Linked DNA regions of Homo sapiens. The protein of the gene in region 1 interacts with the protein of each later gene in a pairwise test. Each region holds a gene or a part of one and is shown in the gene's direction. Other genes may lie near its edges.

Region 1 (3,754 bases):
AGGTATACATGCAGCCAATAATCACATGAAAAAAACTCAACATCACTGATCATTAGAAAAATGCAAATCATAACCACAATGAGATACCATGTCACGCTTCTCAGAATGACTATTATTAAAAAGTCTAAAAATAACAGATGCTCGTGAGTTTGTGGAAGAAAAGGAACATTTATACACTGTTGGTGGGAGTGTAAGTTAGTTCAACCACCGTGGAAGACAGTGTGGCAATTCCTCAAAGACCTAAAGACCATTTGACCCAGCAGTCCCGTTACTTGGTATATACTTAAGGGAATATAAATTGTTCTGTTGTAAAGATGCATGCATATGTTCATTGCAGCACTATTCACAATAGCAAAGACATGGAATCAAGCTAAATACAATAGCAAAGACATGGAATCAACCTAAATGCCCATCAATGATAGAGCAGATAAAGAAGATGTGGTACATACACACTATGGAATACTCTGTAGCCGTAAAAAATAATGGGATCATGTCCTTTGCAGAGACATGGATGGAGCTGGAGGCCCTTATCCTTAGCATATTAATGCAGAAACAGAAAACCAAATACCACTTGTTCTCACTTGTAAGTGGGAGCTAAATGATGAGATCACATGGACACATAGAGGGAAACAAAACACATTGGAGCCTTTCAGAGGGTGGAGGGTAGGAGGAGGTTCAGGAAAAATAACCAATGGGTACTAGGCTTAATACCTGGGTGATGAAATAATCTGCACAACAAACCCCCATGGCACACATTTACTTGTGTAACAAACCTGCACATGGACCCCTGAACTTAAAAGTTAAAAAATAAATAATTGTGGGAGGAAAACATTGAAGTGTTTCTTACATATTTTTCTCTATGCAGAAGAAAGCTGTGGTGATTCGTCACTTGTATAATGAAGATAATGTTGACATTTCTGAGGATACATTAAGTCCAATAACAGATGTTAATGAAGCAGTTGATGTGTCTGACTTAAATGCTACTGAAATAAAGATGCCTGAAGTAAAGGTTCCTGAAATCAAGGCTGAGCAACAGGTAACAACTTTGGACTTTTTAAATAGATGCCAGTATTTTTTACTTAAATATGTGTAATTATTTCAGCCTCTAAACTTTGGAATATTTCTAGCCTTTTGAATTATTAATCATGACATTTTATCTATGTTACAATTACTGAAGTGTCAATAAGTCTTACTAAAATAATTCAACAAATATTTGCTGCATATGTGTAGGGTGCTGGGCTAAGTGTTGGGGTGATGCAAAGTAGAATAAGATATGGTACTTGGCTTTAAGGAATCTACAATTTAGTGAGACATAGCGATATGCTACTTTGCATAGTGGAGGTTCTCTACCACCTATTTTCTTTATTGGTGAATGGAAAAGATTGGCACTTTATTGCCTATTCATTTTCCTTTCTGGGTCCCTGCTGTTATTTTCTGTCTCTCTTAAAAAACCATTTCTATTACTCTTAATTGCCACAGACCCCAATATGTCTGATCTCTACTGTTTCTGCTAAGACTTCTTTTTCTGTGTTTCTATGTCTTGTGATTTCTATATATCTCAGTATATCAATATACAGTTGGCACTTACAAAAACTACCAGATGGCCATTGGACCTACTTCCTGTTATATGGCAAACCGAACAATCTCAATGCACTAAGTGTTGTTTTTGGTCATTTCCTCTTAGCTTTGTGCTAAGCGTTGTTTCAAGAAGCTAGTTAATAATAGTTTTATTTTACTAGCTGGTATTAAGAGAATCATGCAAATTAACTCATTATCAGAAGAATCATATGAAATAGATACTGCTCTTATCTCTTTTTTTTTAATGAGGAAATGGAGGCATCAAGATCATAAATCTCAGAACTGGTTTAAGTGGCCAAGTAGTCTCCATCCAGAGATAGCTCTCTTAACTCTCAAGCAGGACGGTCTCTCCTAACTGTTGAGATAACGCTGTGGAAGTGAGAATACATTAATTTTAAAGAAATTTCAGTTTGTTTAATTTTATTTTTAATCTCTCTAACCTTTTTAGGATGTAAATGTTAATCCTGAGATTACTGCACTACAAACTATGCTTGCTGAATGCCAAGAAAATCTTAAGAAACTGACTTCGATAGAGAAAAGGTTAGACTGTTTGGAACAAAAAATGAAAGGAAAAGTGATGGTAGATGAAAACACCTGGACTAATCTTCTTAGTCGTGTCACTCTTCTTGAAACAGAAATGCTTTTGTCTAAAAAGGTATTTTCCTCCTTTAACATTTATAAAATATCTCAGATATAACAAAGTTTTTTTTTGATTGTTATATGTGTATTTTTTTGGAAATGCTAAATATGAGAATATTTGAATAATGAGAAAATGTCTAGTTAGAATGAAGTCCTGTTTAAATATAGCCTGTATGTTGTTGTGGCTGTTGTTTCTCTCTTCATTGAATAAGATAATCTGAAAAACTTGTCAGTTGAGCTTTTACAGATGTTAATAATGCTTGAAGAATTTAAAATGAGGTAAGAATATGATAGATATGAAAAGCTTAAAATTATTTTATATCTTTTAATAGTACAAATAACCTATTTTCATAGGGTAGAAAAGATACAGAAGATATAGGTAACTCTTCCCATCTTTTTTTCACTCATTTACTTCAATCATATTGTGAATTTCATAGAATAGTTACCAGATTTACCATTGCCTTATCAAATCTGAGAAATTTGTTTTTTTTTACTCAGGATTTCAATTTCTGGTCTGTCTTTCCTTCCTAGAAGGTGAAGTCAAGTAGCTTGCTATCTGCTTCCATATTTAAAACATTTCTTATATGTAGGAATATGCAGTATATGTATTGCTTTAATAAAAAATTAAAAATATTTAAACATTTATCATGCTACCTTTATATTTTATGCTCAGCATTAAGAATATAAAATGAGAGGGTTTTTCTTTTTATTTCATTCTAAATATTTAACTGTGTTATTCCAGAATGATGAATTTATAGAGTTTAATGAAGTTAGTGAAGACTACGCTTCTTGTAGTGACATGGACCTTCTGAATCCTCGTAAGTTTGTAAATACTATGAGAATTGGTATGATGAGTTTTCAGAAAAATGATTGTTATAGTAATTTTAATATTCTTAAGCTTTATTGTTTAGAAATTGCAAAGCTCCTAGAACAAAGAACATAATGAACCTACAGACTACTAAAGCCAAGAATTGCTTAACTAACCAGCCTACTTATTTCACATAACATAGTGGGTGAATAAATTTCAGTGTACAAAATTGAAAATTTTTAGAGATATTTTACTGTTTTAATCATTCGAGAATAATCAAGTGCTCTAGGATATTAATGTTGGCCTCCAAGTTTTTAAATTTAAGCTTAGGTAGGTAGTAGCTTTCTCATATGTAAATAATAATATGTAAGAGAAGAAAACACATTTGTCAGTATCTATAAAGTATTGCAAACTTCTTCCATGTGAATAGTTCACTGATAATGATAAAATGGGAAAGATCTGATATTAGGATAGGTCTTTTCCTGGTCACTTTACTAGGCTACTGATATTTTGCTTAGTGTGACTGAGCAGCAAGGGTAAGATTTCTGTTTTTCAGTGACAGCTTTGTTTTGATTGTTATGTATTTTTAAAAGATCTAAATTTTGTGCCATATCTATGATTAAATCATAGCTATAGAAGAGATGTTTTGTCCAATTGAGAATTCATCGTTAAGTTAAATTTTTAATATCTGTGGATTGTTAACGTTATAAAATCTTTCAGCTCTACTAT
Region 2 (3,754 bases), on another chromosome or scaffold:
CGCGCACTGCGGACCTCTGGCGCCCCCTGTTGGCCAAAGGAGGATGTCGCAGACACTTTCTGGTGAAAAGTTGTTCTTGGGTGGGGAGTGCCGTCACTGTCACTGGTCCCTTGGCAGGGCCACGGCGTTCCCTCTTCCTATTCTTTTCTTCCCTACCTTCCCCCACATCCCTCCTTTAAGGTGGCCAAGAAGAGTGGGAGATGGGAAAATTCAGAACTCATTCCAGATCTTGCAAAAATAGGTTGTGAAAGCTGCCCCCATTACGGACCTCACAGGACCAGCCAAGGCCAAGACACTTCTACAAATAATCAGGGATGGGCATAAAGACTAAGCTACAAAGCCATGCATCAAAGTATTGGGTATAACAAGAAAATCTAGAAATAATGTAAACGTCTACCAAAGGGATACTGACCAACTTCACAATGGTACGTCCAAACAATGCAATACTGCACAGCTAAAAAACAGTATTGTCGCTGAAGAGCTGACATGAAAATATAGCCAAATGGCCAGGCGTGGTAGCTCACGCCTGTAATCCCAGCACTTTGGGAGGCCGAGGTGGGTGGATCACCTGAGGTCAGGAGTTCAAGACCAGCCTGGCCAACATGGGGAAACCCTGTCCCTACTAAAAATACAAAAATTAGCCAGTTGTGGTGGCACACACCTGTAGTCCCAGCTACTTGGGAGGCTGAGGCAGGAGAATCGCCTGAATCCAGGAGGCAGAGGTTGCAGTGAGCTGAGATCGTGCTCCAGCTTGGGCAACAGAGTGAGACTCCGTCTCAAAAAACTAAATAAATAAATACAAAAATTAGCTGGTCGTGGTGGCAGGTGCCTGTAATCCCAGCTACTCGGGAGGCTGAGGCAGGAGAATCGCTTGAACTCAGGAGGCAGAGGTTGCAGCCAGCCTCCTGGCTGCATTTATATAAAGTTTAAGAACAGGCAAAATTAATCTAGCAGGGTAGAAGTGGTAATAGTGGCTGATAGCAGTAAGCAATTTGACTGGAAGAGGGCTCAGGGAACCTTCTGGGATACTGGAAATGCTCTTTATTTTAATCTTGGAGGTGGTTATAGAAGTCTATCCATATGTAAAAATTCATTGAGATGAATACACTTAAGAATATGTACTTTATGTAATACCCCATAAGACATTTTTTTTAAAATACTTAAAAATAAAAGAAAAAACATAATTTAACAGAGGGCATAGTTCTCAAGCTGTTTTCTCTGTCTCAGGACCCCTTTACACACGTTACTGAGGGTGCCCAAGAGCTTTTAGTTTTGTGGGTTATATTTACTATGGACATTAAAGTTGAGAAACGTTTAAAAAACAATACACAATTCCTAGAGCAGTGACGTCATCACGTCAAGCAGCCTCTGGAAAACTTGACTGTTCACTCAGAGAGAATGAAAAAGACAAGTAACATCTTAGCATTATTATGAAAGTAATTTTGACTTCGGGGACTCCCAAATCGAGTGAATTTAGGAAATCTCAGTGGTCCCCAGACGGCACTTTGAGAACCACTGGCGCAGGGAGAAAATGACAGAAGAAAACACACTACACGACAACAGTTATTCTCTCTCAGTGCTGGGATTATAATTTATTTGCTTCTTTGTGCTTTTCTGTCAAAAAAAAAAGGTAAACGGAAATGGAAAATACAATGACCACGTATTGTTTCTGCGAGCAAAAAACGAGACGGCACACTCGCCTCCCTAAGATTGCTGAAAGGCCCAAACAGCAATAGCATATTTAGCTGTATGGAAGAATTAAACTGAGCTCAAACCTGAAAATAAAAGTCCGATTTCCCGTTTGTCAATGCCTGGGCTGTGAGGTGCAGGGTCTTGCCCTCAAAAGCTCCACCGTTCACCTTGGGGAGAGAATATACTCGCATACATAACTGTGGTGCAAGGTTCCCAGGGCCCCAAGGGTAGCGGCTACATCCTACACACTATTGTAAACTTCAGTGTGCAACAGAACCATCCATTACAGCTGCAAGGCGCTCCATCCCGGGGTTCAGCCCTCAAACTAGTCAGTGACCCTCCGCAGGACGCATGCGCGCTTACAAACGCAGTTGGGCGGGGCTTGAGAGAGCTGACAGACTTCGGCCTCTCAACTTTCTAGCTCCGCCCTAATATCCTGTCTCCTTCTCTGAATGGCTGAAAGGCTGCGGAAGCAAGCTTCCCATTGGCAGCGGACAGAATTCACATCCGGTTTGCACGCCGGACCGGAGAGCGCGGAGGCAGCCATGGTGCGGTTCAAGCACAGGTAAGCATTCCCTTCCAGACCCTCCCAGTGCCTTGCTGGGTCCTCGCGGCCCCGCTAGTGTCCACCTTCCTCTCGCCTGCCGCAGGTACCTGCTCTGCGAACTGGTGTCTGACGACCCCCGCTGCCGCCTAAGCCTCGATGACCGAGTTCTGAGCAGCCTCGTACGGGACACGATCGCCAGGGTGCACGGAACTTTCGGCGCAGCCGCCTGCTCCATCGGCTTCGCGGGTGCAAGGGCGCTGGGGGAAGAGGGGAACCCGGGAGGATGGCGGGATGTGGAGGGGGCAGGCGCCGGAGGAAGAAAGAAGGGGCACGAGTGGCCAAGCCCGTGCACCGTTTTTTGTAAGGTATCTCTTTAAGCGCCTGGGACCCCAAGCGAGAGTCCGAAATTAGCAGAGCGCTAAAAGGAGGGGCCCGAAGGCAGTGGGGCTTTGAGCTAGAAGCCTCTTTTTACCTGCTTGACAGGTAATTTCTGTAATTGGTTGTGATTGAATTTGATAGGGTAGAGAATTAAATGAGGGAAGCTGTGTATACTTCCTAGTAAGAGCTATTATATGACCGATTACATTAACATCATATGGAAAAAAATTGTCAAAAGTACTCCGGGAAAGCCCTTAAATAGTTGGTAAAGTACAGAACACATGATTGTCAATATATGTAAATACAGGATGAGCTAGGACAGAGGGGCCCTTCTTTCACACCACTTAAATTAGTTCCCACTTTAACCTTGTTTGAGATTGACTTCTGGAGAGTTAAATGCAGATAGACTTAACTCTCCTAAGTCAGGTGAGACTGAGAGCTGACTGCTACAATAATTACGGAGCCCAAATGCAGTAAAACAGCCTGTTTTTCAGGCAAGGGTTTTGTGGGGGTTTTTCCTAAATTAAAACGGATCGCCTCCTACCTGCTCCTATTTATTGAATTAACTAGTGAATTAGAAAGCATTTTCAATTCTAAATTCATTCACCAGTTCTGAGTGGTGTGCAACACAGTGGGTGTTTTGGCTTTTCTCTTTTACTCGCTGATAGATCTACGTGCCACTTGCCTACAACATACTTTTGGCACATAGTAGGCTCTGTTACTCCAAAGTTTTCCTTTTTTCGAGACAGTCTGGCTGTTGCCCAGGCTGCTGGAGTGCAGCAGCGAGATCGGGGGTCATTGCTGCCTCTGCCTCCTGGGTTCAGGCGATTCTCATGCCTCAGCCTCCTGAGTGGCTGGAATTACAGGTGCGCACCACCACACCCAGCTAATTTTTGTATTTTTAGTAGAGACGGGGTTTCATCATGTTGGCCAGGCTGGCCTCGAACTCCTGACTTAAAGTGATCTGCCCGCCTCAGCCTCCCAAAGTGCTGGGATTACAGGCGTGAGCCACCACACAGAGCAAAAGTTTTCCAAAATGATTTTTCTTTCCTGTTGTAGTTCGATATCTCAATGCCTATACTGGAATAGTGCTACTTCGATGCAGAAAAGAATTCTATCAGCTTGTGTGGTCAGCTC
Region 3 (3,754 bases), on another chromosome or scaffold:
ATCGAGACCATCCTGGCTAACATGGTGAAACCCCGTCTCTACTAAAAATATAAAAAATTAGCCAGGCGTGGTGGCGGGTGCCTGTGGTCCCAGCTGCTCTGGAAGCTGAGGCAGGAGAATGGCATGAACCTGGGAGGCGGAGCTTGCAGTGAGCCGAGATCAGGCCATTGCACTCCAGCCTGGGGGACAGAGCGAGACTCTGTCTCAAAAAAAAAAAAAAAAAAAAATTGAGTGAAAGAAGACAGACACAAAAGAATACATATTATATGATGCCATTTATACAATGTTTAAAACCAGGCAAAATTTACATGTGCTGTTAAATCTGGATAGTAGTCACTTTATTGCCAAGGTGGCTACTGACTAGAAGGAGACACACAGGGGTTTCTGGGATGCTGATAATGTGGGGTTTGTTTTGTTTTTGACCTTATGGTAGTTACACTAAGATGTTCATTTTGTGACTGTTCATCGAGTTGGTACATTTATGATTTGTGCACGTTTATGTTTGCATGTTCCGCTTTAGTAAAGACTTTAAAAAATATATTGACGGATACATACTTAATACAATTGCTGAAATAAGACTTGATGATACCAAGTGCTGGCAAGCATGCAGAATAACTGGAACTCCTCAACATTCAAGTGTGAATATAAAATGGTACCTCCACTTTGAAAAACTGGTGGTTTCTAAGAGTCAAATATATACTTGTCCAGTGATCCTATTTCTAGGTATTTACCCAAGATTAATGAAAGCTTATGTTCTCGCAGAAACTTGTATGTGAATGTTTCTAGTGGCTTTATTTTTTTTGTTTTTATATTTTGAGATGGAGTTTCGCTCTTTTTGCCCAGGCTGGAGTGCAATGGCGTGAACCCGGCTCCCCAAACCTCTGCCTCCCGGGTTCAAGTGATTTTCCTGCCTCAGCCTCCCGAGTAGCTGGGATTACAGGCATGCGGCACCACGCCTGGCTAATTTTTGTCTTTTTAGTAGAGGTGGGTTTCACCATGTTGGCCAGGCTGGTCTTGAACTCCTAACCTCAGCTGATCCACCTGCCTCGGCTTCCCAAAGTGTTAGGATTACAGGCGTGAGCCACCACACCTGGCCTGTAGTGGCTTTATTAATATTCACCAAAAACTGGGAAAAAAAACAACTAGGGAATGGATAAACTGTGCTCCACCCCTACTACCTTCAATATTACTCAGCAATAAAATATAACAAACTGCCGATAATGCAACAGTGTGGACGAATCTCAGAGGCGTTACACTAAGTGAAAGAAGCAAGACTCAAAAGTGTAGATAATAAGATTCCATTTGTATTACATTCTGGGAAAGAGAAGAGAACAGATAAGTAGTTGCCTGGGAATGCGGGAAAGGTTGACTACCAAGGGGCACTGTTTCTTGATATAGTTACACAACTATATGTGTTTATAGATAAATGTAACTTTTAAAATACTGATACTTAGTTCCTATCTCAGACCACTTAACTCACTCCGAGGGTGAAACCTAGGCACTGCTCTTTGTTTTAAACCTTCCCAGGTAGTTTTACTGTATAGCCAGGGTTGAGAACCACTGAGCTACGTAAATTATCTAAAGCACTCCAAGAAAACATTGTCTTTTGGTTTGAGTGTCCACTTTCCTCAATAACTGTTTAAAAGCAGCTGGACAGAGATTGAGCATCTAGTGAAGTAATTCCTGTCTAAGTGGATGTGAATTATCCCACTTTTTTCCCATTGGTGGCTAGGACACATCAGGCAGACTTTTCTGGGTATCATTTTCTGCTGCTAGCATTGTTCAAATGGGTAGTTATGAAAACCAACATTAAGAAAGCCTTGAACAGAGCATGATTATTTAAGCCATTGTATTTGAGATCATATCTGGCAGTACTTGATTGTTCTGTACCGCCATGGGATTTTTGTCCTTTTCTAGTCTCCTTATATGAACAGACCTGACTCAGGGCTTGGTTTAAATTATACCACTAGATGTCACCAAGAAGTAATGAATGGGTAAATGTACAAGGATCCAAGGACAAAATGTGATGGGAGAATTTTGAGTTTACCTTCCAGCTTCTAAAAGGGCTCTGAAGGCAATGGGTTAATGTAGAGGATCTAATGGAAGGCTGCAACATATCGTGAAAGTTTGCCCCAGCTTCTGAGGGCAAACTTACTCTCTTTAGCTGTGGACTGTCAGAACTCAGAAGTTCTGAGGGCAAACTTCCTACTCTCTTTAGCTGTGGGCTGTTTCTGTAATCTTATTTATTTATTTTACCTTATCTTAGCTTTGGAGACTTCCTTTAAATTTCTGTACCTTGGCATTAGGTGGCCTTCTGTGTCTTACTACTTTTTCTGAGACCTTTTTCCTGTGTATAATCTAAAATCGACTGTCCTGCTCTAAAATTGTTCTCAGATAGATTGTTCTAGCTCCATCCCTCTCTGTTGTTATTTCTCATATGTTGTTTCAAAATTCAGCAAACCTTATCACTCCCCATAGTTTCTCAGGCTGAATAGAAAGAGTGTGAGGAGGTTTCCTAGATGAACCAGGTTAGGCCCAATGCACAGTGGGTTAAGACTAATATTTCTGTATGTATCTATGCCAGTCTTTCTTTCCGTGTAAACCAAGTAATGGAAGATAAAACTGGAAACAAGGGCCTAATGCCAAACCAGAGCTAAGATCTGATCTCTACTTTCCCTTTACCCTCTGTGCCTTGTGGTCAAGCCCCCTGTCCCTCATATTTGGGTTGACTGGAGATTTTTTTCTAGCTGAAAGTAGGTAGCTGTAGTTGCCAGTGTAAACATAAATCTTGGTCCCAATTCAGAAGTGAGCTTCATCTCTGGCCTATCCCCTGAACTTAAGTCCTTGATACGGGTTAAAATGCTCACCAGTATATTTCAACTCTGAATCTTGCCTTTGTTTCAAGTCTATTTTAGGACCTATCATCTCCATTTAGCATCCCATAGCTATCCCAGCTGCACATGATATTCCTTTGCATTTACAGGCTATGCCATGTAATCCCACATTTGCTCATTTGTGCCCTTGTGTTGTCTTTTCCACCATCAGCTGCTGAAAGCTTTCATGTCCTTTTCACTCAATATATTTACCTTGCGTGACATTGAGCATAGAGTTGAAATGATTGTTGATGAATCAGTTGAACCAAGGCATAGTAATAGTAGTGAACACTTACGTAATACGATGCCCAGGCACTGTCTAAATACTTGCCATATGTTATCTCATTAAATCCACACAGACACCATGAGGGAGAGACTTATTTTCCTCCATTTTATCAGTGCAGTAACTGGGCCATAAAGAGGTCAAGAAACCTGGCCAACATCACCCAGCTGCTAAATGATAGAGCCACATTACAAACCCAGGCAGTCTGACTCCAGGATCTGTGCTCTTAACCTCAATACTATGACTTCATTAAAACCATAAAAGTAAATTTTTATTTTATTTTATTTATTTTGGAGACAGAGTCTCGCTCTGTCACCCAGGCTGGAGTGCAGTGATGCAATCTTGGCTCACGGCATCCTCTGCCGCCTGGGTTCTAGTAATTCTCATGCCTTGGCCTCCCAAGTAGCTGGGATTACAGGCACCCACCACCACACCTGGCTAATTTTTGTATTTTTAGTAGAGAGGTGGTCTCACTGTGTTGGCCAGGGTGGTCTTGAACTCCTGGCCTCAAGTGATCCGCACACCTCGGCCTCTCAAAGTGCTGAGATTACAGATGTAAGCTGCCACTCCCAGACAGTAAATATTTATTAAGCATTTA

The links.
Region 2: the proteins of CEP44 (region 1) and POP5 interact in binary tests that used the Homo sapiens proteins (3 or more experiments, as listed by UniProt).
Region 3: the proteins of CEP44 (region 1) and RNF8 interact in binary tests that used the Homo sapiens proteins (3 or more experiments, as listed by UniProt).

The regions. Positions count from the first base shown.
Region 1 is NC_000004.12:174,307,824-174,311,577, forward strand, and holds part of CEP44 (centrosomal protein of 44 kDa), read left to right. Parts: intron 1-865; coding exon 866-1,036; intron 1,037-2,026; coding exon 2,027-2,233; intron 2,234-2,959; coding exon 2,960-3,035; intron 3,036-3,754. UniProt on the Homo sapiens protein: Centriole-enriched microtubule-binding protein involved in centriole biogenesis. In collaboration with CEP295 and POC1B, is required for the centriole-to-centrosome conversion by ensuring the formation of bona fide centriole wall.
Region 2 is NC_000012.12:120,579,846-120,583,599, reverse strand, and holds the start of POP5 (ribonuclease P/MRP protein subunit POP5), read left to right. Parts: upstream 1-2,197; 5' UTR 2,198-2,237; coding exon 2,238-2,257; intron 2,258-2,342; coding exon 2,343-2,485; intron 2,486-3,676; coding exon 3,677-3,754. UniProt on the Homo sapiens protein: Component of ribonuclease P, a protein complex that generates mature tRNA molecules by cleaving their 5'-ends. Also a component of the MRP ribonuclease complex, which cleaves pre-rRNA sequences.
Region 3 is NC_000006.12:37,363,973-37,367,726, forward strand, and holds part of RNF8 (E3 ubiquitin-protein ligase RNF8), read left to right. Parts: intron 1-3,754. UniProt on the Homo sapiens protein: E3 ubiquitin-protein ligase that plays a key role in DNA damage signaling via 2 distinct roles: by mediating the 'Lys-63'-linked ubiquitination of histones H2A and H2AX and promoting the recruitment of DNA repair proteins at double-strand breaks (DSBs) sites, and by catalyzing 'Lys-48'-linked ubiquitination to remove target proteins from DNA damage sites.